Linked DNA regions of Homo sapiens: region 2 is linked to region 1. The links come from fine-mapping of genetic effects on gene expression. Tissue or cell type: whole blood. Region 1 holds a variant in brackets; the other region holds the start of a gene. All regions are shown on one strand. Distances are between the middles of the regions. Region 1 holds the start of LINC00475 (long intergenic non-protein coding RNA 475). Region 2 holds the start of SPTLC1 (serine palmitoyltransferase long chain base subunit 1).

The links.
Region 2: SPTLC1 starts here. The variant in region 1 is fine-mapped to the expression of SPTLC1 in whole blood (INTERVAL, PIP 0.94).

The regions. Positions count from the first base shown.
Region 1 is chr9:92,130,814-92,143,147 of GRCh38, forward strand. It overlaps LINC00475 (long intergenic non-protein coding RNA 475), which reads left to right and starts at 10,654. Exons shown (of 4, transcript NR_027341.1): 1 at 10,654-10,837. It also overlaps the pseudogene LOC100128076. RefSeq lists enhancers at 3,090-3,721, 3,326-3,565, 9,201-9,780, 10,360-10,939, 10,940-11,518 and a silencer at 10,504-10,683. The variant G/C (reference allele first, on the strand shown) is at 5,771.
Region 2 is chr9:92,110,051-92,122,384 of GRCh38, forward strand. It overlaps SPTLC1 (serine palmitoyltransferase long chain base subunit 1), which reads right to left and starts at 5,363. Exons shown (of 15, transcript NM_006415.4): 1 at 5,264-5,363; 2 at 2,405-2,512. The coding sequence starts at 5,320. It also overlaps the pseudogene MTCO3P29, the pseudogene MTND3P23, the pseudogene MTND4LP7 and the pseudogene MTND4P15. RefSeq lists an enhancer at 5,866-5,925.

The DNA of each region.
Region 1 (12,334 bases):
CGTGATCCACCCACCTCAGCCTCCCAGAGTGCTGGGATTACAGGTGTGAGCCACCACACCTGGCCGTCATTATTGTTTTTGATAGATTTGTCTTTTAGTCTTCCTACTAATGATATGAGTGGTTTAAATAATGCAATTACAGTATTAGGCTATTCTGTATTTGTCTGTGTACTTAAGTTTACCAGTGTGTTTTATATCTTCAGTTGCTTTCTTGTTACTCATTAATGCCCTTTTCTTTCATATTGAAGAACTTCTTGTAAAACAGGTCTGGTGTTGACAAAATCCCTTAGCTTTTGTTGTCTGAGAAAGTCTTTATTTCTTCTTATGTTGAAGGATAATTTTGCTGGGTATAATATTCTAGTCCAAAGTTTTTCTTCCTTTGATACTTTGAATGTCATTCTATTTCCTCAGGCTGGTAAGGTTACCACTGAGAAGTCTGCTGCCAAGTGTGTTGGAGCTCCTTTTTATGTTATTTGCTTCTTTTCTCTTGCTGCTTTTAGGATCCTTTCTTTATCTTTGACCTTTGAGAGTTTGCTTATTGTATACTTTGAGGTAATTTTATTTGGCTTGAATATTCTAAGTATTCTTGATCTTCATGTTCCTAGGTATTCATGTCTTTCTCTAAGTTTGGAAGGTTCTCTGTTATTGTTTATTTGAATAAACTTTCTACCCCAGTCTCTCCATCTACGTCCTATTTAAGACCAGTAGTTACTAGACTTGCCCTTTTGAGTTTATTTTCTAGATCTTGTAATAGTGCTTCCTTCTCTTTTATTTATTTTTGCTTTTTTCTCCTTGGACTGTGTGCTTTCATATAACCTGTCTTTTAATCTACTGATTCATTCTGCCACTTGATCAATTCTACTGTTGAGAGATTATGATTCATTTTTCAGATTGTCAATTGAGTTTCTAAGCCCCAGAATTTCTGCTAGATTCTCACTCTGTTGCCCAGGCTGGCGTGCAATGGTGCAATCTCAGCTCACTTCAACCTCTGCCTCCCAGGTTCAAGCAATTCTCCTGTCTCAGCATTCTGAGTAGCTGGGACTACAGGCATGCACCACCACACCCAGCTAATTTTTTGTATTTTTAGTAGAGATAGGGTTTCTACTAAACCCCATGTTGGCCAGGCTGGTGTGGAACTCCTGACCTCAAGTAATCCGCCCACCTTAGCCTCCCAAAGTGATGGGATTACAGGCGTGCACCACTGTGCCTGGCCTCTGCTTGATTTTTAAATGTTAATTCTTCATTAAATTAATCTGATAGAATTCTGAATTCCTAGTCTGTGTTATCTTGAAGTTGTTGGGCTTCCTCAAGATGGGTATTTTGAATTCTCTGTCTGAGTGGTCATATAATTTAATCACTCCAGAATTGGTCACTGGTGCCTTATTTAGTCCATTTGGTGAGATCATGTTTTCCTGGATGCTCTTGATTCTTGTGGATGTTCAATGATATCTGAGCATTGAAGAGTTAGGTATTTATTTCAATCTTTGTAGTCTGGAGTGTTTGTATCCATCCTTTTTGAGAAGGCTTTCAGTAATTGAAATGGGATTGAGTGTTGTTACATAAGCCTGTGGTCGTTGTGGCCTCAGGCAGAACTATGAGGCCAAGAGTGCTCATGCGCACCAGGCTTTCTTTTTGAAATTCGAGGTGAGGCCTTTACCACCCGTGAGCTCAGAGGAGGGAAGACTGGGACCTGTCTGAAGGTCTGGAGGGAACTCCCAGTTGCACACTTGCCCCCACTGCCCCTTTCCTGGCATGGGGTGAGATCGGTCTACTTCAGCAACCAGTGCCTGCCCTTGATCCCTGCAGGAGCTGAAGGAGGTGAGCAAGGAGCAGCCCAGACTGGAGGCTGAGTACCCTGCCAACACCACCAAGAACTGTTAACCACATGTGCTACCCTGTGAGTGCTGGGGGCAGGAAAGGAGGCATGGCAGAGGGCTAGGGCTTGGCATGGGAGCAGGGGGCTTCATGTGCCCAACCCTGAATGCACAGCTTTCACTCTCTGCAGATGACCACTCCAGGGTCAGGCTGACCCAGCTGGAGGGAGAGCCTCATTCTGACTACATCAATGCCAACTTGGTCCCAGTAAGGGCCACCGGTGAGGCTGTCCATGGGATCTGGGATCTGCTCGGGAGATGGGCTGGTTTGCAGGCCACACTTGCCTTCATTAGCTGTAACAGCTCTCTAGGAGATCACCAGCTTGGGCTTCATGAGCTCAATCCAGCAGGTGTCTAGCAAGGGTCTACTGTGTGCTGGGCTCTGTGCTGGGCCTGCAGGAGGCAGAGCTGTTAGCCACATTCCCCACCTTCAAAGGAGCATGTAGGCATGTGTGTGACATTCACCACACACTGTGACAAGGGCTGTAATAGAGGAAAAAACACTACTCAGGGCACATGGAGGAAGGGGAAATTTCATCCACCTGAGGAATCAAGAAAGGCTTCCCAGAGGAGGGGACATTTGATTTATTGAAGGATGAGTAACATTTTGATAAGTGATGAAAGAGGGAAGGACATTCTGTTGACTGGAAGAAGCAGCCAGAGAACAGCCAGGCAGTAACGTTCAGGCAGTGTGTGAGAGTGTGTGTGTGTGTGTGTGTGTGTGTGTGTGTGTGTGTGTGTGTGGTGGGGGGTGCGTAGGGGTGAGGGAGTGGGGAGGTGCTGGGTGGTGGGAGATGTAATGGGAAAGATAGCCTGGGGCTGAATGGGCTGAATGAAGGAGGGCTTGATTGTTAGGCTGAGGGCTTTGGACTCTATTTGGTGGGCAATTGGGAGCCATAGAAGATTTTTGAGCATGGAAGAAACGCAGTTTGGTTTTAGGAAGGTAACTCTGGGTGGGTGAAGAGGGTGGCCTAGATGGGCTATTTAACTCATGTCAGTATCTTGTTTTCATTGGGGTTTTTCTTGTCCCTTTGGGGTGGGACAGGGACGGGGGTGATGTCTCTGAAGTCAGCCCTTCTGGTTTGCATTCTGGGTGCACACGTGTTCTTGTGTGTGCACACATGTAGGTGTGTGCACAGCATCCTCACTCCTGGAGGTCAAATGTTGGAAATCTGCTGTGTGCTTGACACCAAGCATTGCCCGTTAACCATGTTCCTGATCTCTGCCTCCTACACCCCAGGGCTACACCCGCCCACAGGAGTTCATTGCCTCTCAGGGGCCTCTCAAGAAAACACTGGAGAACTTCTGGCGGCTGGTGCGGGAGCAGCAGGTCCGCATCATCATCATGCCGACCATCAGCATGGAGAACGGGAGGGTGAGTGCGCCTTGCAGGCTCCTAGAAAGGCCACCAGGTGGCGCACGTTCTCCTTGTGGGGATGGCCCCGTTGGCATCTTCCCGTGGGAAGGCGGGGCAGACTGGAGTGAGGCCAATCAGGCCTGGAGGGTAGTGGACCCACCTCCCACCCAGACCTGGGATGGGGAGGCAGTGGGAGGAAACAGGTATGTAAACTCCCAGCTTGGCTTTGTTTCTACGGGCTTCTTGCCCTGGGCAGAGAAGGCATCAAGGGGTAGGGACTGCCCAGGGCCGGTGTCAAAGGTACCATCAGGGATCCTTCCTTTCGATAAGCCTGGCAGATGCAGGGCCCTAGGACATGCAGAGAGGCTGCCGAGTCTGTCCTCTTGCTGGAGCAGTGAGCCCAGGGCCGCTGGCCGCGGAATAAGGGCTGTTCTGTTTGGCACAGGAACCTTGTGGCTGACTCAGAATCCTGAGAGTCATGAGAGGTCTGAGGGCAAGGGTGCCGGAGCCCAGGCAAGGGAGAGCAGCTCCTGGAGGAGGAAGCCTTGGAGCTGGGTCATTACAGAGAGCAGAATCCCAGCAGGGTGGCAGGGACCAGAAAGGTGGGCAGGGAGGGGTGGGACTGAGTAAAGCAGGGGGCGGCAGTGATAGGGCTGGGCCCACAGCCGCCCTTCCCCTCTCCAACCTTCTGGTCCCAGGTGCTGTGTGAGCATTACTGGCTGACCGACTCTACCCCGGACACCCATGGTCACATCACCATCCACCTCCTAGCTGAGGAGCCTGAGGATGAGTGGACCAAGCGGGAATTCCAGCTGCAGCACGTGCGTGCCCCAAGGATGAGGGGATGGGACAGGCATTAGAGCTGAGACCCCTGAGAAGGTTGCCTCACTTCCTGGGTCCCTGGAGCCCTCTCTTTCGGAGGACCACAAGTACTCAGTCACCACCCAGGGAAGAGTGTGTTAGGGAAGGGGTAGAGAGGCACAGAGAAGATTAAGGGTTTATCTGAGGCTGCACAGTGAGGGAAAGGAAGAACAGGAGAGACATGATGGTTCCTGACCTCCCCCATGCCAGCTCAGGGCTCTTGCCTCACCCCATGCCCCCTGTGCCCATCTTCCTTCCCAGATTGTGCACCCCTGGGGCAGGAAAGCCAGAGACCCGAATCACTTCTCTGCCCAGGCACCCTCTATATGCAGAGGTTACCCAGGAGGCTAGAGAAGGACCTGAGGGCTCAGGAAGCATCCTGATGGGGGAGACATAGCTGCCACCCTCAAGGAACAGTTGGTCTGCATCATCCCTGCCCTTAGGCAGCTGGGGAAGAAAGTGTGAGATCTGGGCCATGGGAACCTGGAGTTAGGAAGATAAGGAGCAGCAGCAGGGCCCCTCTGCCCCCTTGTCCCCTTCCCACCCCCTTCTTAGGTTGTCCAGCAACATCAACGGAGGGTGGAGCAACTGCAGTTCACCACCTGATCCGACCACAGCATCCTTGAGGCTCCCAGCTCCCTGCTCGCCTTTATGGAGCTGGTACAGTAGCAGGCAAGGGCCACCCAGGGCGTGGGACCCATCCTGGTGCACTGCAGGTGACAGCAGGTGAGTGCATAGGGTGGAGAGCCCCCTGCCTGGCCTGGGGGCATGGAGGGCTCTTGGACTGTGGGGAGAGCTGGGGACATGGGCAGCCTCTTCACCCATTCAGCTCCTCAGGGGCTGTCCCTGCGGTGTGGGCATGGGCCGGACAGGCACCTTCGTGGCCCTGTCGAGGCTGCTGCAGCAGCTGGAGGAGGAGCAGATGGTAGACGTGTTCCATGCTGTGTATGCACTCCGGATGCACCAGCCCCTCATGATCCAGACCCTGGTGAGGGCCCTGCAGGCTGGGCTGGGCAGCTGGGACCCTGAAGGAGTGGGAGGGAGGTGGGTGGCCACAGGGCTACAGGAGGGACCAGGAAAGAGAGCTCATGGGGCACACAGAAGACCTTGGGGAGAGGGTTTCAGACACATCACCATCCTACCTGGGCTGTGCTTTCTATTCTGTGAAAGGGGAGGTGGGACAGGATCCTGTCAGCTTTGACACCATGGGACGGTGGAGGGAAGGTTTCTCAGTGGCTCCCTCTGCCCTCCTACCTGATCCCTGCCTTGCTGGTCAGGGCCTGAAAAATCTCCCTGCAGGCCCCCCTCGCTCCTCGCTGAGCAGCCTGATGCCTTTTCCCCTGGCAGAGCCAGTACGTCTTCCTGCACAGCTGCCTACTGAACAAGATTCTGGAAGGACCCTTCAACATCTCTGAGTAAGTCCCAGCTTCCCTGTGCCTCCCACAGGCAGGCTCCCTGCTCCTGTTCGTGGGCAGAGCTGAGCGGACTAGAACGGGGAGCTGGGGAACCTTGAGTGCCTTCTCCCTCTCCAACCCCCCCACCAGGTCTTGGCCCATCTCTGTGACGGACCTCCCGCAGGCGTGTGCCAAGAGGGCAGCCAGTGCCAATGCTGGCTTCTTGAAGGAGTACGAGGTACACTTCAGGCCGGGAAGTGGGTGACAGCCAAGGGCAGCCTTCC[G/C]CTGCTGAGCCAACCCTGCAGTGAGACCTCCCAGCCTCAGGGCACCCATCTCCTTCCCAGCTCTTGCTGTAGGCCATCAAGGACGAGGCTGGCTTTTCCGCACCCCCGCCTGGCTATGAGCAGGACAGCCCCGTCTCCTGTGAGTCTCACTGTGGACCCTGTGGAGGGGCAGGGGGCCAGCGTGGGCTGGGGACCTCTGGCAGCTTCACCCTCACTGTCTTCCCTCAGATGACCGTTCTCAGGGGCAGTTTTCTCCGGTGGAGGAGAGCCCCCCTGACGACATGCCCGAAGCCTGGCTCTTCCCTGTGAGATGATGCTGGTTTTGCCACTGTTTCCTGCCCTCTCTGACCACCTGTACTTCCCGGGCTGGGGCTGCTGGGGGCTCCCAGAGTTGTGGACTGGGCAGGGGGCACCTTCAGTCTCTGGAAGCCAATGATCTGTGCTCTGCAGGGTGGGCCCTCTGGCCGTGATCATACGGTGCTGACTGGCCCCGCAGGGCCAAAGGAGCTCTGGGAGCTGGTGTGGCAGCACAGGGCTCATGTGCTTGTCTCTCTTTGCCCACCCAATGTCATGGAGAAGGTGACAGAGCAGAGGACAGAGGAAGGGAGGCTCAGGAGTTAGGGGTGAGGATGGAGGCGGGTAGTTTGTGGTGCTGTCTGTGACCAGGGCAGGGGCAGAGATCTCAGGAAGTTGCCTGAGCAGCCCTAACTTGGTCCCAGCCATAGGAATTCTGGCCAACGGAGATGCAGCCCGTAGTCACAGACATGGTGACGGTGCACTGGGTGGCTGAGAGCAGCACAGCAGGCTGGTTCTGTACCCTCCTCAGGGTCACACATGTAGGTGCTGGGGCCACAGGGCATGGGGTGGTGCATGGGGAAGAGTCCTGTGTGGGCTTCCTCTGCCCTCTCCAGCACCAATGCTGATCATGTCTTTGCCACAGGGGGAGAGCAGGAAGGAAAGGGAGGTGCAGAGACTGCAATTTCCATACCTGGAGCCTGGGCATGAGCTGCCCGCCACCACCCTGCTGCCCTTCCTGGCTGCTGTGGGCCAGTGCTGCTCTCGGGGCAACAACAAGAAGCCGGGCACACTGCTCAGCCACTCCAAGTGTTGTTGGACAATGGTCTTGGGGGAGTGGACAATGGTCTTGGGGGAGCGGACACTGGAAGCCCCTCCCTGCCCTTCTGGCATAGCCTCAGATCTCCCTGGGCTCTGCTTGGGTTATGGGTCAAAAGGACACAGTCTCACAATGCCCCTGTCTTCTCCACACCCTACCCTGTCCTCAGGAATATGGTGGGAATTTACCGCCTCCCTCCCTAGGTCCAGGCTGGCCGGCTGACCAAGTGTCCGGTGTCCCTTCTCAGTCCCTGCGCCCAGGTTGGGTTTTCCCACATCCGTGGACACCCCCGCCACACCCCCTTTAGGTACCTCATCCACCTCTAGGTCAGTTGCAGCAAGGGTGCAACCCAGCTGGGCACCTTCCTGGCCATGGAGCAGCTGCTGCAGCAGGCAGGGTCTGAGTGCACCGTGGATATCTTTAACGTGGCCCTGCAGCAGTCTCAGGCCTGTGGCCTTATGACCCCAACACTGGTGAGAGGCGACCAGGGGCGACCGGGCTGGCGTGGGGGCTCAGCTGTGGGAAGGGGCGGGGGGATGAGGGAGCTTCTGCCCAGGCCTCTAGGCAGCACCACCCGGGTAGCCACCAGGTGGCGCTGTGGACCGCTGTGCGTTCTCCCAGATGGAGCCCTAGGGGTTGGGGGACACAAGGGAGCCTTTTTCTGTTAGATTGGGGCAGGCGGGGCGAGCCTCCTAACCCTATGTCCATCTCCAGAAGCAGTATGTCTACCTCTACAACTGTCTGAACAGCGCGCTGGCAGACGGGCTGCCCTGAGTCAGCACTGGTCACGGTGCAGGAGAGGTTTGTGCCCTGTGGGATGGGGACAGCATTCCTGACACATCCACGTGGGCCTGGGCTCCCTGGAAGGGCGGCCTCCACTGGGCCCTGTGCTGGGAAGGTACAGGGTCTTGGAATAAAGACCTGTGGCCAAGCCTGAAGCTCAGTGTGTTCTGTCTGTCCATCCTCAGGCCTGGGCCCAGCGTGTGGGTCTCGTGGGCAAACATGGAGCCGGGATGGAAGCTAGGACCTGGAGTCTGGTTGAACTTGGTGACCTATGGCCCCTATGCTGTTGGTTTTTCCCCTGAAGCAATCCTCTCCCTGCTAATCCTCCAGTTTCTAAATTTCCTCAGACTTTGGTCTCTCCACGTCTAGTTTCCTGTGGTGCTAAGCCCTGGATTCAGAATCACAGCTCCAAATTGTTTGTCCTCTGCCTCATCACCCTGTACGCACCATGCTGTATGCAGTAGGGTTTATCCTGTTTCCCACTTCCCTTCTCCTGCCATCCCCAGCCTTCTCTACCTGCCAGAGCCCCCAGGGGCCACCCTCAGCCCCCACCAGGATGGAGGTGCCAGAGCTACCCTGTTACTCGGAAGGCAGGTGCTGGAGGCACCCCTCAGGCGGAGGTGCCAAGTTTTCCCTGCTCCTTCTCTGTCTCCTTCTTCCTCCCCTCTACATAAGAGGTGGGGGAGAAAGCAGGGAAGGCATATGGAGAAAGGAAAAACCAGGAGGAGCAGCAGAGACCAGAAAAGAGGGTGGGGAGGCAGCTGTCTGTCCCACACACTGTAGGACTGCACTGCATACCATGTGCATGATTGCTGGTGGCCACATGAGCTCCTGCCTGCTTCCCTGGTCAGGCTGGGAGTTTCCAGGTGCAGTGCCTGATGCTGGACACTAACTGCCCCTGGTGGAAGGCCCTGGGAGGACACAGAGAAAGCCTGGAAAGATCAGAGCAAGAGTCCCTGAAATGGAGTCGGGTCTCCCCAAGGGGAAGCGGGGAGAGCTCTTTGGCCAACCTGAGTTCCTACTAAGGTGCAACGGGTCAGAAGTCAGGAGGGTCCTTCTCAGGCCTGGTTGAAGAAGGGTACAGAGGTCGTGCTGGCTGCTCAGCCGGGAGCTTTCCCAGAACGAGACTAAAGCACTGGTGCCCTCCCAGGAGGACTAAATGCCGGTGTCCTCCATATGCCATGTTTATCAGGAGCTGAGGGTGGGCCCCCTAATGACCCTCACAAAAGCAGGCTGGAGGCTCTGCTCTGAGCTGCCCAAGTCTGTCTCAAGCAGCTGCTGCTGAGGTTGCAACAGGGCTCAACCATGGCTTTTCCACTCTGGGAAAATCTCACATTGGAGCAGCAGGAGCTGCAAATGAGATGGAGCCAAGGCTATGGTTGAGTGAAGGAAGTGCAGGCTGGCCTGTGGTAGCTTTCTGCCATAGGGCAAAGGTGGCTCTATCTGTGAGTCTTTCTGGTCATGTAGGCCCATCCTCTAGCCTTCTTAGGAGGCTCATCTTCTACTTTCAGCGCCATGGCACCAACGGGAGGCCTAGGGTCAGGGTCTGCTCATTTCTTGGTCCGGCTATGCAGCCCCTCTAGCCCTGGGAGGTTATCGGAGAGTGGAGAGGTGTTGATGAGAGGATTCTGGCATGTGGAAGGACAGGGTGGAAGAAATCCTGGATGCCTCTGAGGTCCCAGGTTTCTGGTATACCCTCTGGCTGGACCATGGGGAGACAGGGCAAAAAAGGAAGGAGGGGTGCCCACAGCCTGCTCTAGCTCTGCACTGGGGCTTGGCTCAGCATGGGAGAGACCAGAGACAGCAAGAGGCTGCGTGAAGGAAGCACAGCCAGCTCACTATGGTCTAAGGAGAGAACAGGGATTGGCCTCAGTTTTAACCACCGTGCCCTTTGCTCACCAGGGCTCTGGGGCCGGCCAGGTCAGCCAGTTGGTGGGATTCCAGCCTCAGGGTGGCCGAGCTGCAGGTGCAGCACCCGGCCTCCAGGTGGCGCCAATCTGCTTACTTTGAGGTGGCCTCTTGACAAGCAGCTGAGCTGCACGCAGTCCCTCAGCCTGCCGAGGTCCTGGGAGCAGGGATCAAGGTGGTCCCCGTAAACCTGACAGTAAACCTGACAGAGGCTGCAGGAGTGCATTTCCACCCAGGGTGCACTCAGCGAGTGGAACTCCACACCCGTTTCTTTGGAGTCAAGGCGCGACCTCTCAGGGAGGAGACTGCTCCTGGTTGCCCACTGCCGGGTCATCCCAGCTTGCAGTGGAACCCTCCGCAGCCTGGCCTCTTCCAGGGTAGCCCCTCACTCCCCTCTCTCTTGTCCTAGGATAAGGCCGAGGAGGGCTGACGAGTTCCAGCTCTGGGGATGCCCTATCAGCTGTGTCACCTTGAACAAATCATTTCTCCTCTTGGGTCTCTGTTTCCTCCAGTGTGAAACGTGGTGAAGGCATGAGGGGCTATGAGAGCCCCAAGGCCTCTTTCAGAGATCTCCTCTGGGTCCCATGTGACCCCGTGGCTATCCCCAAAGGCAAGAGGGTCCCCAGCCCTGCAGCCAAGGCCCTGGGACACCCTTTCTAAACAAGTGCAGGTCTCTGACGGGCTGAGCTTTGCTCGCTTGGGTTTCTTTGCTTTTTTCCTTTTTTTATCTTTCCTGAATGAAATTCCTGCCAGCTCCGAAGGAAGGAGGGAAGGGAGCTAGCCGCAGCGTAGAAAGTTTCCTTGACTCCTCCTCCGGCTGGGTCTCCCTCCCTTGCCAAGCCCAGCCTGTGAAACTGAATAACGAAGATCACTCAACAATGCCTGCTCCTCTCTGACTGCACCGCCCCGCCGCCGACGCCCAGTAGAGCCCCCGGGGCGGTCCCCACCGACGGCGCAGCCCGCCGGGACCGGGAGAAAGCAGCTGCGGACACCGCGCCCGTGCGTCTGCGCGCCTGGCCGCCAGGTGACCCAGCAGCCCGGCCGCCGAGATGCCCAACCCGCCCAGGCTCCGGGCGCTGTGACTTCGCGCCGCTGTGTGCGCCTCCCCGAGCGCCGGCTGCGCCCCCCAGCCCGGCCCGGGGCCTACCGCCTGCCCGGCCCCCTGCCACTGCCAGGAGGACGGCATCATGCTGTCTGCCGACTGCTCTTGAGCTTGGGCTGTCCGCCATACCGGGGGACCTGGATCCCCTGACGGCTTACCTGTGAGTACTGCCCGCCTGTCTCCACCTGGTACTGCGGGCTGCTGGCTTGCACCCAGTCCTGGCCTCAGCAGGACACCTGCTTGCTTGGTGCCCTGGGGCGTGGGCATCCCGGAGAGGGTTCACCCCCTTCCAAGTTGACCGTTGCGGGACTGGGGAGGGGAGAAGAGTCTGAGACTAAATATCAGGCGAGCAGGGAGACCAGGCTTCCCTGACTTGGCTTCCCCATTGGCCTCCGTGCTTGTGGGCTGACTGCGGGAGCCCAGGTTTGGCAAGGTGGGTTCTGGACCCTAAGCGGGAGGGCGCGGGGCTGGCTCCCCCATCTCCTGTTGCTGCATTCTCTTCCAGCAGAGCAGTGCCCAGGATGGTGGCTGAGGGTAAAGCTGACAGAACTGGAGGTGGAGGTGAGGGGAGCGTGCCCCAGTGGGGTGGAAATAATGTCTGTTCTTCTGCCATGGTGAGGACAACAGGGCTGTCACACTGAGGCTGGGTGGCCTTCTTTGGGGGGGGGGTCCCAGAAGCTGGGAGGGGGGCCTTATCCACTCTTGTCTCCTCAGAAAGGGACTCTGCCAGCACCATCTCCCTTTACTGGGGCCTCCCGGCTCCCCCAGGGGCCTCCCTAAAGTCATGTCCCAAGAGGCTGTGTTGGAGACACTAATTTGTGGGCAGGCGCGGAGGCTGAAAAGCGGAGAACCATTTTTAGCGTCTGAGTTGGGGTGAGATGGCCCGTGAAGGGGACCCTATTGGGGGCAGCTGTCCTGTCCGTCTGGCTCACAGGAGCTTCCCCTCAGAGCTGGAGGGCTGGGGGCTCTCGCTGCTTACCACATGGGCAGGAGGAGGGTGAGAGAGCACATTCCAGGCCACCTACCCGCACCCCCAGCCCCGCTCTGGGGAAAGGAGACCTCCTCCAGCCCAGCTCTGCAGGCTCCATCAACTTCCTCAGAGGAGCTGGGAGCAGGTGGGAAAGCCTGGGGCCTTCTGCTGAGGGCTAGGATCCCAGAGCTCCTTCTGGCCTGAGAGAGACCCCTCATGGCTTCTAGCATGTGGGAGTTCTAGCACGTGGGAGCTTAGAGGAAGAGGACGCTGGGCGAATCTTTATAGGGGCCTAGCAAGAATTTGTGGAACTAAAAGGATGCTCAGTGTTGGCAGTGTCCTGGTGGGAGGCAGAGGGTCCCAGATGGCAACTCTTCATGGGGCTCCTCTCCAAATGTCCCTGTCCCTAGGTTGGGATGTCCTCCTCCACTCCAAAAGGCACAGGCTGTGGGCCAGGTAAGGGAGTGAGAAGAGAAAAATAATGCCCATCTTCTAGAAGGACAAATGGAATCCTTCACAGTGCAGCAGGTGACGGCGGAGGCAGTCATGGGAATAAAGCTACCAACTGCACAGAGGCTGGGTGCTCAGCATCTGGCAAAGCAGGGCAGGCTCCGGCCCCAGCCCACACCCAGGCCAGCCCTGCTTTCAGCAGTTTTCTATCCTGGGAGTATGTGACATTGGTTCATT
Region 2 (12,334 bases), 21 kb before region 1:
GTCGTATGACTATTCCCATGTGTCTCTATCTACTGGTGAGGGTCCTACTACTCTTTTAGTATAAGCAGTACCACTGACTTCCAATCAACTAGTTTCGACAAAGTCTGAAAAAGAGTAATTAACCTAGCACTAGCCCTAATAACTGACACTTTATTAACTCTATTATTAGTAGTAATTACATTTTGACTTGCATAACTTAATACTTACATAGAAAAATCCAGCCTTTATGAATGTAGATTTGATCCATTAACCTCTACCCACCTCCTCTTCTCCATAAAATTCTTTCTAGTAGCCATCACATTTCTCCTATTCGATTAGAAATCGTCCTATTCCTACCCCTGCCATGAGCCCTTCAAACAAATAACCTTATACTAATAATCAGTACAACCCTTCTACTAATTACCATTCTAATCCTAGGCCTAATTTATGAATGAACCCAAAAAGGATTAGATTGAGTTGAACTGGTAAATAGTTTAAATTAAATGATTTCGACTCATTAGATTATGATAGACCATATTTACCAAATGCCATTTATTTATATTAACATTATATTAGCATATACCATAGCACTGCTGGGAGTACTAATCTATCGATCCCACCTAATACCATCTCTATTATGCCTAGAAGGCATCATACTATCAATATTTATCATAAATACACTCATAATTTTAAACATGCATTTCACTCTAGGATTCATAATACCCATTATCCTCTTAGTATTTGCTGCCTGCAAAGCCGCAGTAGGCCTTGCTTTCCTAGTCTCAATCTCCAACGCATAAGGCCTAGACTATGTACAAAATCTAAATTTACTCCAATGCCAAAAATTATTATTCCAACAATTATACTGTTACAATATAACTCTCCAAAAACTCTATAGTCTGAATATAGCTACTCATAGCCTATTCATCAGCCTCATTACCCTATTATTTTTTAATCAACCAAACAATAATTCATCTAACTTCTCATTAACTTTTTCTTCTGACGCATTAACATCACCTCTTCTAATCCAAACAGCCTGACTACTACCTCTTATAATCCTAGCAGGCCAACATCACCTATCTAATGAATCACCCTTATGGAAAAAAACTCCGTATTTCCAAATTAATTTTCCTACAACTTTTTTAAATTACAGCATTTACAGCCACAGAACTAGTCATACTTTACATTCTTTTCGAAGCTACACTCATCCCTACCCTAATCATTATTACCTGCTGAGGTAACCAACCAGAATGCCTAATGCAAGCTCATACTTATTTTACACACTAGTAGGATCCCTTCCCTTACTTATTACACTCATCCACACCTGAAATAGCTCAGGTTCACTAAATATCCTAATAATAATGTTTACTAATCAAGAACTATTAAACTTCTGATCTAACAACCTTATATGACTAGCATGTATTATGGCTTTTATAGTAAAAATACCCCTATACGAACTTCACCTATGACTCCCTAAAGCCCACATAGAAGTCTCTATTGCCAGCTCAGTAGTTAGGAGGCTACGGTATCATATGACTTACCCTCATCCTCAGCCCCCTAATAGAATATATATCCTACCCCTTCCTCATACTATCCTTATGAGGAATAGTTATAACAAGCTCTATTTGTCTAAGACAAACTGATTTAAAATCACTTATCACTCATTCCTCCGTAAGCCACATAGCACTTGTTATTATAGCTATCCTTATTCAAACCCCCTGAAGCTTTTCAGGCGCAGTCACTTTACTTCAACTTCGGCAATATCAAAATTGTCTGCTGCAATGCAAAAGTCACAGTGAATACACTGCTAGAAATACCATGTCTCGTTGTGGCTAGAATAAAAACAATCACTTGTGAGTTTTGTGCACTAACCACCCTCGCCTCTTTCCTTATCACTAGAGCTAGAGGTTCTTTTCCATGTAGTTTTGTGGGTGACTTGACAATTTATGAAAATTTAACTTCTATGCTCAGAATTCTTTTTTGATTTACCATACACATAAAAATTCAATTTGAGATGGGTATGAGTAGGATTCTTTTCTACTCTGACTCTCCTTTAAGAAGACCACAGGGGAATCTTTATCCCATACTTCAGAAATAGTTGTGCTATTCTGCAGCAACTCACACAACACTTATGAATATTCAAACTCCAGTAGTTGCCCATGCTTCCCTCTAACCATCTATTTGCAAGACTGCTGTTTACTCCTAGCAAAGTATCCAAGACCATAATATGGTCTTCATTTGGGTACTGACTTTATTTCTAGATTTCCCCATATTTTGCCTACCCTAATAATTCATTCCCCTTGATTTCCTTACATTACAGAAAATGCTTTAACACACATGGTTGAGCCACCACAAATCCTTTCTGGAAAGACATAGCAACTATAATCACATACCCAATAATTAAAACAGAGATTTAATTTCGTACCTTGACTGTAAGATCAGATCGTTCTTGTAATTTGTAAGTCTTAGAGAAAAGAAGTCTGATTATCCAGAGGATCAGAATCCCTTCCAAAATAAGATGGTAAGCAGGAGCCTAAGAGTGAGTCAAAAACAAGTAAGATATGAAACATACACTTCTAACACCTGCACATAAAATTTACTACACCTGCATATACTGCCTCCTGTGACTTTTAGCCTATTCTTAACAATTTACTTTCGAAGCTCCCTTAATTTCTATTCATTCCTTTCCCCATTTCTAATAGCAGGCAATTTCTCCCTCACATGAAAAACCCCTAATATTTTTAGCTTTTAAAACTTCTTTGGGAATAAAAATTAAAATTAAAAAAATAAAATCTAGGCCAGGCGTGGTGGCTCATACTTGTAATCCCAGCACTTTGGGAGGCCAAGGTGGGCAGATCACCTGAGGGCGGGAGTTTGAGACCAGCCTGACCAACATGGAGAAACCCTGTCTCTATTAAAAATACAAAATTAGCTGGGTCTGGTGGCGCATACCTGTAATCCCAGCTACTTGGGAGGCTGAGGCAGGAGAATCGCTTGAACCCAGGAGGTGGAGGTTGTGGTGAGCCGAGATCACACCACTGCACTCCAGCCTGGGCAACAGGAGCAAAACTCCGTCTCAAATAAATAAATAAATAAAATCTAACACAGAATCCCAATATTAACCATCGGATTATTTAATTTCAGTGGTTCTTTTTTGGGTACACTATACAAGACTACTCAAATTCTACATTCAACACGCATAGGATTTGGGAGTAAGAAGTTTATGATGAATTTTAAAATTTGCTCATCCCCCTAAATACAATTCATTTATGAATAAGTCTAAATACCCTTTTAGTTTTCTCAATAGTTGGATTCTAGCAAGCAAACATCTGCCCCAGCCACTAGTTAAGAGCCCACTCCAAAAAGAAATCACCCTAAGAAAAGCTGAGAAACTCTCTCTCTAGTGAATTAATAAAAATCACAAACACCACTTCTTTTCCTTCCCAGGAAATGTTACATACAGGAGTTCTCCCAAGTCTCACTGTTGGACAGTTTCGGGGAATGAGAAGTTACACTACTGTCAGTCTTCAAAAAGGGAGCAAACAACATTTAACAGAAAATAATCCATTTCTTTAAAAAATCATTTATAAAAAAGATCATTCAATTTTAGTGGCTCATTTTAGGTCACTACAGTTAACCTAATACTGGGCATCACTTAATACATGAGCATAAGACAGAGCCACATCTGCTGTCTCTGCTGTTTCAAGATAAAATTCCCAGTATGTCCTGCAATGGAAGACACTGTCATTACCCCTACCAGTAGACGGTGATATTAAGTTTGGTGATATTAAATCATCAAAAGTAAAGTGAAATTCACTTGAAATGAATGTAAGCTCTTTAAGCACAGGGACTTCTGCCTATTTGTTCACCGCACTATCCCTAGCATCTAGATCTGTGTGGTCCAATGTGGACAGTCACTAAGTTACACGTGGCTATTTAAGTTAAATTAAAAATTCAGTTGCAGCTGGGTGTGGTAGCTCATGCCTGTAATCCCAGCACTTTGGGAGGCCAAAGCAGGAGGATTACTTGAGGCCAGGAGTTCGAGGCCAGGCTGGGCAACACAGCAAGCCCCCGTCTCTATTAAAAAAAAAAAAAGATTAGTTGGGCATGGTGGTATGTGGTCCCAGCTACTCGGGAGTCTGAGGTGGGAGGATCGCTTGAGTCTGGGAGGTCAACGCAGCAGTGAGCTGATCGCACCACTGCACTCTAGCCTGGGCGACAGAGTGAAACCCTGTCTTTAAAAAATAAAATAAAATAAAATAAGTTCTTCAGTGCCCAATGAATAGCTCTGCAAGACAGCACGGGGACTCTCAGTTATTAAATGAATGAACACTAAGATTGACATTCTGGTTTCTTATTATCTTATGTATCTGAAATAACTAGGCTTCAAAAAACTCTTAACTATTCTTCCTTTAAAAGTCTACGGCCAGGTGCAGTGGCTCAAGCCTATAATCCCAGCACTTTGGGAGGCCAAGGCGGGCGGATCACCTGAGGTCGGGAGTTCGAGACCAGCCTGACCAACATGCAGAAACCCCGTCTCTAATAAAAATACAAAATTGGCCGGGCATGGTGGCACATGCCTGTAATCTCAGCTACCTGGGAAGCTGAGGCAGGAGAATCGCTTAAACCCGGGAGGCGGAGGTTGTAGTGAGCCGAGATCACGCCCTTGCACTCCAGCTTGAGCAACAAGTGCGAAACACCGTCTCAAAAAAAAAAAACAAAAATAAATAAATAAAAATCGACTAAACTAGTTGTATCTTTATAAGACAGAAAACTGATGTACGCAGAAGAATGACAAACTATTTTTTATTCACAAATCCTAAGTCACTTGATTTCTTTTCGACAAAAACAAACTCCAATTTATTACAATTTTATTCCCCAACGAACTGTACCGTAGTTCCAAAGAGCTGACTTCCTTAGGACCTTCCCAGACGAAGGTGTTCCACTCATTTTCACCACTCCGTTTTATCGTCCGTCTAAACTCTGGTTTTTGCAGACCTGTCTCCTGCGTCCCCTTACACGTGTTCCTTTCCGGAGCTTCCAGGGGACCCGGAGCATAAGAATTCAAACCGAGACCCTCAGTCCCAGCCCCCGCCCCCGCCCGTTCCTCCCTACACTCAACCGCTGGGACTAGAAGCTCCCGGCAGTCCTTCCAGCAAGAGGCACCGAGTCTGGGCGTGACCGAGCCAGTCCCGCCGAGGTCTCAGGCCACAAATCCACACGCGTCCTCCCACCCTCCCCGGGCCCGGGTGTGGTCGCGGACCGCTAATGGCGCGGAGCCCACCTCGTAAAGCGCCTGTACCATCTCCACCAGAACCCACTGCTCCGTGGCGGTCGCCATAGTTAGCCGCTTCCTTCCGGAAGGCGGGTCACAAGCGCGTCCCAAAAGTGCGCGTCGCTGCTCAGTGTCGTTATCACCTCCGCAGAGGGCGGGGCGGCGGAGCGCTGGGCACCGCCTACTCGCACTTGCGCACTGGTTGACAGGAGGCTGGACGGGGTCAGGTGGGATGCCGCAGTTTTTCCAAGAATTGTTTACCTTGTGTCCTATTACCCTCCCTGCTGGATTCAGGATGGAGAAAGTAGTAATGAACGGGCCTTACACTTGGTCATCAGCTGGGCGCAGAGAGTTAAAATGATTGCAATACGTTTACTTTATTTTTTTTTTTTTGAGACGGAGTTTCGCTTTTGTTGCCCAGGCTGTAGTGCAATGGCGTGATCTCGGTTCACCGCAACCTCCGCCTCCCGGGTTCAAGCGATTCTCCTGCCCCAGCCTCCCGAGTAGCCGGGATTACAGGCGTGGGCTACCACGCCTGGCTAATTTTGTATTTTTAGTAGAGACGGGGTTTCTCCATGTTGGTCAGGCTGGTCTCAAACTCCTGACCTCAGGTGATCCGCCTGCCTCGGCCTCCCAAAGTGCTGGGATTAGAGGCGTGAGCCACCGCGCCTGGCCAATACGTTTACGTTTAGTAGCATAAGTAATCCAGCAATGCATTATCATTAAGAAATGCATAATTATACACAAAAATAGCCAACCCATATAGCACTTCCTGTTTTGTCAGACATAGGCCAAGGCTTTGCAGGTATTAAATCATATAGCAGTTTGGTAAAGAACCTTTTAGAGCCTTCCAATGCATATGCAAACAGTATGCACGCGCACATACTTAATTGGATTGGATTTCTTAAATATAATTGAGATCATAGGGACAAGACTTTTCTACAACTTTTTTTAAATTTTTTTTCTAGCATTTTTTTCCTAATATATCTCATATTTAATGGCTGAAGACTTCCATGGAATAATTTATGTATATTCATCGTTCCATTTTATGTAAACGTTTCCCTATTGGTGAATACTTATGTTGTTCCCACCTTTCCCCTATTACAAATAATGCTGCCATAACTGTCGATGTTCCTTGTGTGTATATCTTTCTGTGCATGTTGGAGTTTTTCTGACCAGTTTTTTCAACATGGGATATATCTGAAGACTATGCACGTTATTAATTTTGATAAGTACTGCCAAAATGGCTCAACCAATTAAAATAATTTGGAAGTTTTTCTATGCTCTAGTCCATGATGGATATTATCAATCTTTTAAAAAAATTTGCCAGTTTAATGGAGATAAAATGATACCTCACTATCCTTTATTATTGATGCTTCTGGTTACTCATGAGGTTGTGCAGCTTCTTATATGTTTATTGGCATTTATAGACTGTATGAATCGCCAATTCATATTCTTAATCCATTTTTCTATTGGTTATTTTTGCCTTCTTATGGATTTGTAGGAACTCTATACATTCTGAATATCTTATATTTTTCTGTTTCATATGTGAAAAATATTTTTGCTCAGTTGCCGCCTAGTTGTTTCTGCTCTTTCATCATACTTTAATTTTAAATTTTATGTAGTGCTTCAGTCTGTTTTTTGCCTCTGGATCTGCATATTGCTTAGAAAGGCCTTCTTCACCACATCTATGGTTTCCAACCATTCTTGCAGCAGTTTGTTGTTATTTGCAATTAGCTCTTTACTCTGGAAACTATATTTTTGGATAATGAGAGTTAAGGGACTTAATTATGTTTTTTTCTAAAGGAATAACAATTTTTTGAGTGCCATTTATTTGAGTAACCCTGACTTTCCCCAGAATTCTGAAATGGTACCAGTGCTATTGATACAGGAGCCAAAAAGAAATTATTTAGGCAGATAGTGAAGGTAAGAGAGTCCTCAGCAGAGCTTCTTTCTGAACAAAAAGCAACCCCAAAATTATTTCTTTTTTGCAAAGAGCAGCCTGAAAAATTGAGCTACAAACATAGATAAGCAAGCTGGCAGTGCACGGGAGAATGCTGGCAGTTGTGCCGATAGAAAAAGACTACCTGGAAGCCAGGTATGTTCAATATGGAGACTCCATCTTCCATTTTCTTTGTCACCACGTGTACAGTGAAGGAACAGGCAACATGGCATCAGTCAGGTAGAGAAGCCATCTGCAGAATAAAATATTAGGGTGGGAAGGCCAGCTTCTTCATGCACTATGCAAATGGCACACCTGGTCCAACCAGTCTTTCATTCCCTACGTAAATCAAACGCCACTTCCTCAAGCTCATCTATAAAACCCTGTGCGTTTCACCGCAGAACTGGCAACCCATTTTCTCTGGGACCCCTTTCTCTGCACAGATAGCTCTTCTCTTTCGTTTGCCTATTAAACTTCTGCTCTTAACCTCACTGTGGTGTGTCGCGTCCTAGTTTTCCATGGCTGTGGGACAATGAACCTCAGGTATTACCCCAGATAATGATGCCGCTACACTATGTGCTACATTTCCACATAAGCTGGCGATATGGAGTCCGTGTCAGTGCTCTGCTCACAGTCCTGTGCTTGCGTGCATTTCCTCCCCCGGGTGCTTTCCTTCCAGCAGCCACGCCTGCATTTCTCAGAGGACCCCCTTGAAGGCTGCCATTCCCACGTTTCCTGCTCTCCTGGAGAGTTGGAAGTATCTGAGAATGTATCTTCTCCTGGGCAGTACTTACCAGTGTGGATTACTGATGGTAGCTGGGATATAAATATTGCAGCTTCCTTGCCCTACTTAGCAAGACAACTCTGAGGGGTGAACTTCACCATACTCTCTGCAATTCTGAGTCAATGGTACTATCTGCAAATTCTTTTACACACTCATCAAAAGGCATATCTTTGTGGCAGCTTCTATAAGAGAATACAGCTGCCATGTAGAAAGATCATGTGAGAACCACATAGAAGGGGAAAGAGATGACTAAGGGGCCCCAGCTGCCCCAGTCCCTGGCTGTTTGAGTCTTACTAGTCCAGGTACCAGACGTGTGAGGGACGACACCTTCGAGGTGGCTCCAGTTCCAGCCACCATCTGGTTACCACCACTGAGAGACCCTGAGTGAGGTATGCCTAGCTAAGCCCAGATGACACCCAAATGTGTGGGCAAAAATAAACGATTGTTATTGTTCTAAGCCACTGTTTTGGGATTGTTATATTTTGGGATAACTGGAAGGAATACACCGTGGGACTTTGCTTGATTTGGAACTTTTGCTTGGCCTCTGTATCAGTTTCCTAGGGCTGCTGTAACACACGATCACAAACTGGGTGCCTTGAAACAGCAGAAATTTATTCTGTCACATTTCTGGAGGCCAGATGTACAAAATTAAGGTGTTGACAGGGCTATACTCCCTCCAAAGGCTCTGGGGGGAGAAGACTTTTTTTGCCTCTTCCAGCGAGAGCCTTAACTTAGTTACATCTGTAAAGAACCTTTTTCCAAATAGGCCATGTTCCCAGGTTCTATTCCCTGATTCGAATGTTAACATGTCTTTTTGGGCTCTACCATTTAACCTACTATAGTCCAACCTCTGGCCTTCCAAATTCACATCTGCCTCATGTGCAAAATACATTCATTCCGTCTCAACATCTCCAAAAGTCTTAACTCTCACCTAAATATCATAAAAATTAATTCAAAGAGTCTCAAATATTCACATATAAATAATCAGGTGTAGGTGAGTCTATGGGTATGAGCTATGCAAGGGCAAAATTCCTCTGCATCTATTGACTAGTGAGACTAGAAAAGAAGTTACCTGCTTCGAAAACACAAAGGTGGGCCACGTATATGATAGACAATCTCACTGCAAAGCAGAGAAATTAGAAGGAATAAAAGGGTCATCAATCCCAAGCAAGTTAGAAATCCAACAAGGCAAAGTCATTTGGTTTCAAGGTCTGGGAATAATCCTCTGTGGCTTGAAGCTGTGTCTTTTGGGCTCATGGCTTCATAGGCCTCTTTGCTCATGGCAACTTGGTAGGTCTCTGCTCTTGAACATTCAGCCTCTACCCCTGTGCCCATGACCCTGTCCTCATAGTGATTCTTCCTTTTTCTTGAAGGGCAGCACATGCTGATACCTGAGTAGTTCTATCAGTCCTCTTCTTGCCTGAAGAATTGTGCATATCTGACAGCCTCTCTTTCACTTTGTCCTGTCTCAGCCCCTTCAGGCCAAGCTGACAGTGTTTCTTCTGGTACAACCTTCTCAAGAACTTTTGAGGCTCCCATGTATGTCACAGGGATCCATGCCATTAGATAAAAGAACCCCCACAGATCTTTCCTGGATAACGCTGGATCTATCCTTGGATCCGTGAGATAATTGAGGGATCCATCAGTTGTATAGCAGATCTCTTCAGCACAATATTGTCTAGGCACACCCTCGGCCCTGTATCCAGAGTACACTTTCCCAACAGTGAGTTTCCCAATTTTAGCATCTTTTGCAATCTGAATAGGCCGAGAAGCTCCCAATCATCAAGTGTTGTTTCTTTTTGCTTAACAGCTCCTTCCTCAATTTGCTTATTTCCTTTTCTGTTTCATTACAAACAGCATGAAGAAACCAGGCTGCATCTTCAACACTTTGCTTAGAAATCTCCTCAGCTAAATATCCAAGTTCATTGCCTACAAATTCTGCTGTCCACCTAAGGACACAATTCATCCAAGTTATTTGCCACTGTGTCACAAGGATCACTTTGCCTTCAGTTTCCAGTAACATGTTCCTCATTTCCTTCTTAGCCTTCAACATAAACCACTTTTAACATCTGTATTTCTACTAACACTCTGCTCATGATGAGATATACATTTCTAAGATGATGGAAGAATTCTCTACCATGCTCTTCACTTCCTTCTGTTCCCTCACCAGAATTGCCTTTAAAATCCATAACTCCACTAACAGTCTCTTCAAGAAATTCTATGACTTTTCTCTCAAGTACCTCAAAAACCATCCAACCTCTATTTATTACTCAGTTCCAAAGTCACTTCCACAATTTGAGGTATTTATTAAAGTAGCACCCACTTCCTGGTACCAAAATCTGTATTAGTTTTCTAGGGCTCCCATAACAAATTGCCACAAACTATGTGGCTTAAAACAGACAAAATTTTTTTCTCCAAAGTCTGGAGATCAGAAGTCCAACATCATGGTATTGACAGAGCCACTCTCTTTCTGAAGGCTCTAGGAGAGAATCATTCTTTCCCCTTCCAGGTCCTGGTGGCTCCAGGAATTCTTGGCTTGTGGCAGCATCACTGTAATTTCTACCTTAATCTTTTCATGGCCATCTCTTCCTGTATGTGTCTCTCCTCTGTGTCTCTTATAAAGTCACTTCTCATTAGATTTAGGGCCCACCTGGATAATTCAGGATGATCTCATCTTGAGATCCTTCATTACATCTGTTAGGACCCTTCCACCAAATAAGGTCACATTGACATGCTCTGGGGTATAATAGGGCTCTCCAGGGAAACAGGATAAATAAAACATATATAGATCTCTACATAAGAGGAGATTTATTATAATGATTGGCTTGGCCAGGCGCAGTGGCTCATGCCTGTAATCCCAGCACTTTGGGAGGCTGAGGCGGGTGTATCACCTGAGGTCAGGAGTTCGAGACCAGCCTAGCCAACATAGTGAAACCCCGTCTCTACTTAAAATACAAAAAATTAGCTGGGCATGGTGGTACGCACCTGTAATCCCAGCTACTTGGGAGGCTAAGGCAGCAGAATCGCTTGAACCCGGGAGGCGGAAGTTGCAGTGCACCGAGATTATGCCACTGCACCCCAGACTGGGGGACAAGAGCGAGACTTTGTCTCAAAAAAAAAAAAAAAAGGCTCACATGATTATGGAAGTTGAGAAGTCACACAATCTGCCATCTGCAAATTGAAGAACCAGGAACATCAGTGGTGTAATTCAGTCCTCGCCCAAAGGTTTAAGAACCAGGAGGACCAAAGTCCAGGGGCAGGAGAACATGGATGTCCCAGCTTACACAGAATGAAATGTACCCTTCCTCTGCTTTTTTGTTCTACTCAAACTTTCCATGGATTGTATCATGCCCACCCACATTAGTGAAGGCAATCTGCTTTATTTAGTCTATGAATGCAAATGCTAATCTCTTCTGGAAACACCCTTACAGACGCACCCAGAAATAAATATTACCAGCTATGTGAGAATCCCTTAGCCCAGTCAAGTTGACACCTAAAACTAACCATCACATGGAGATTAGGACATAGGCATGCCTTTTTGAGATCCACCATTCAACTCACTCCAGTAGCCTTCCCTTCCTCATCCCAACTCCCCTCTCTTTTATCATTTTTTTCTTGAGAATGCTCACTAATAAATTACTTTTACACAAATCCTTGTTTTGTGGTCTGCTTCTGGGGAAACAAACCTAATAGGATTTATATCTGGAGTCTATATTTGATTCCATTAGTCTATTTGTTTGTACCATACCAATACAATATTGCTTTAAAAATTATTTATTCCGAGATATTTTTAGATTCATATGCAGTTGTAAGAAATAATTCAGAAATAGCACATGTACTCTTTACCTTCAATGTCATCAATATCCAGTTTTCCCCAGTGTTAACATCTTGCAAAACTATAGTACAATATCACAACCAGGATATTGACATTGACAGTCAAGATACAGAATCATTCATTTACCACAAGGATCTCTCGTGTTGTCTTTTTACCACTACACCAAGTTCCCTTCCTCTCCCTGCCTTTATTCGTTGGTCCATGTCATCCACTAACCTTCTCTTCATTTCTATAGTTCTGGGTTTCTAGAATGTTATGTAAATGGAATCATACAATAAGAGACCTTTCGGGATTAACTTTTTTCATTGAGCATAATTCCCTACAGATTCATCCAGGAAGCTGCATGGAATACTAGTTTGTTCCTTTTGATGGCCATGTGGCATTCCATAGTATGAGTGTACCACAGTTTGTTTAGCTATTCATGTGCTGAAGGACATTTGGGTAGTTTGCAGTTTTAGGCTGTCATGAATAAAAGATGCTATCAACATTTGTGTACAGATTTTTGTGTGAACATCAATT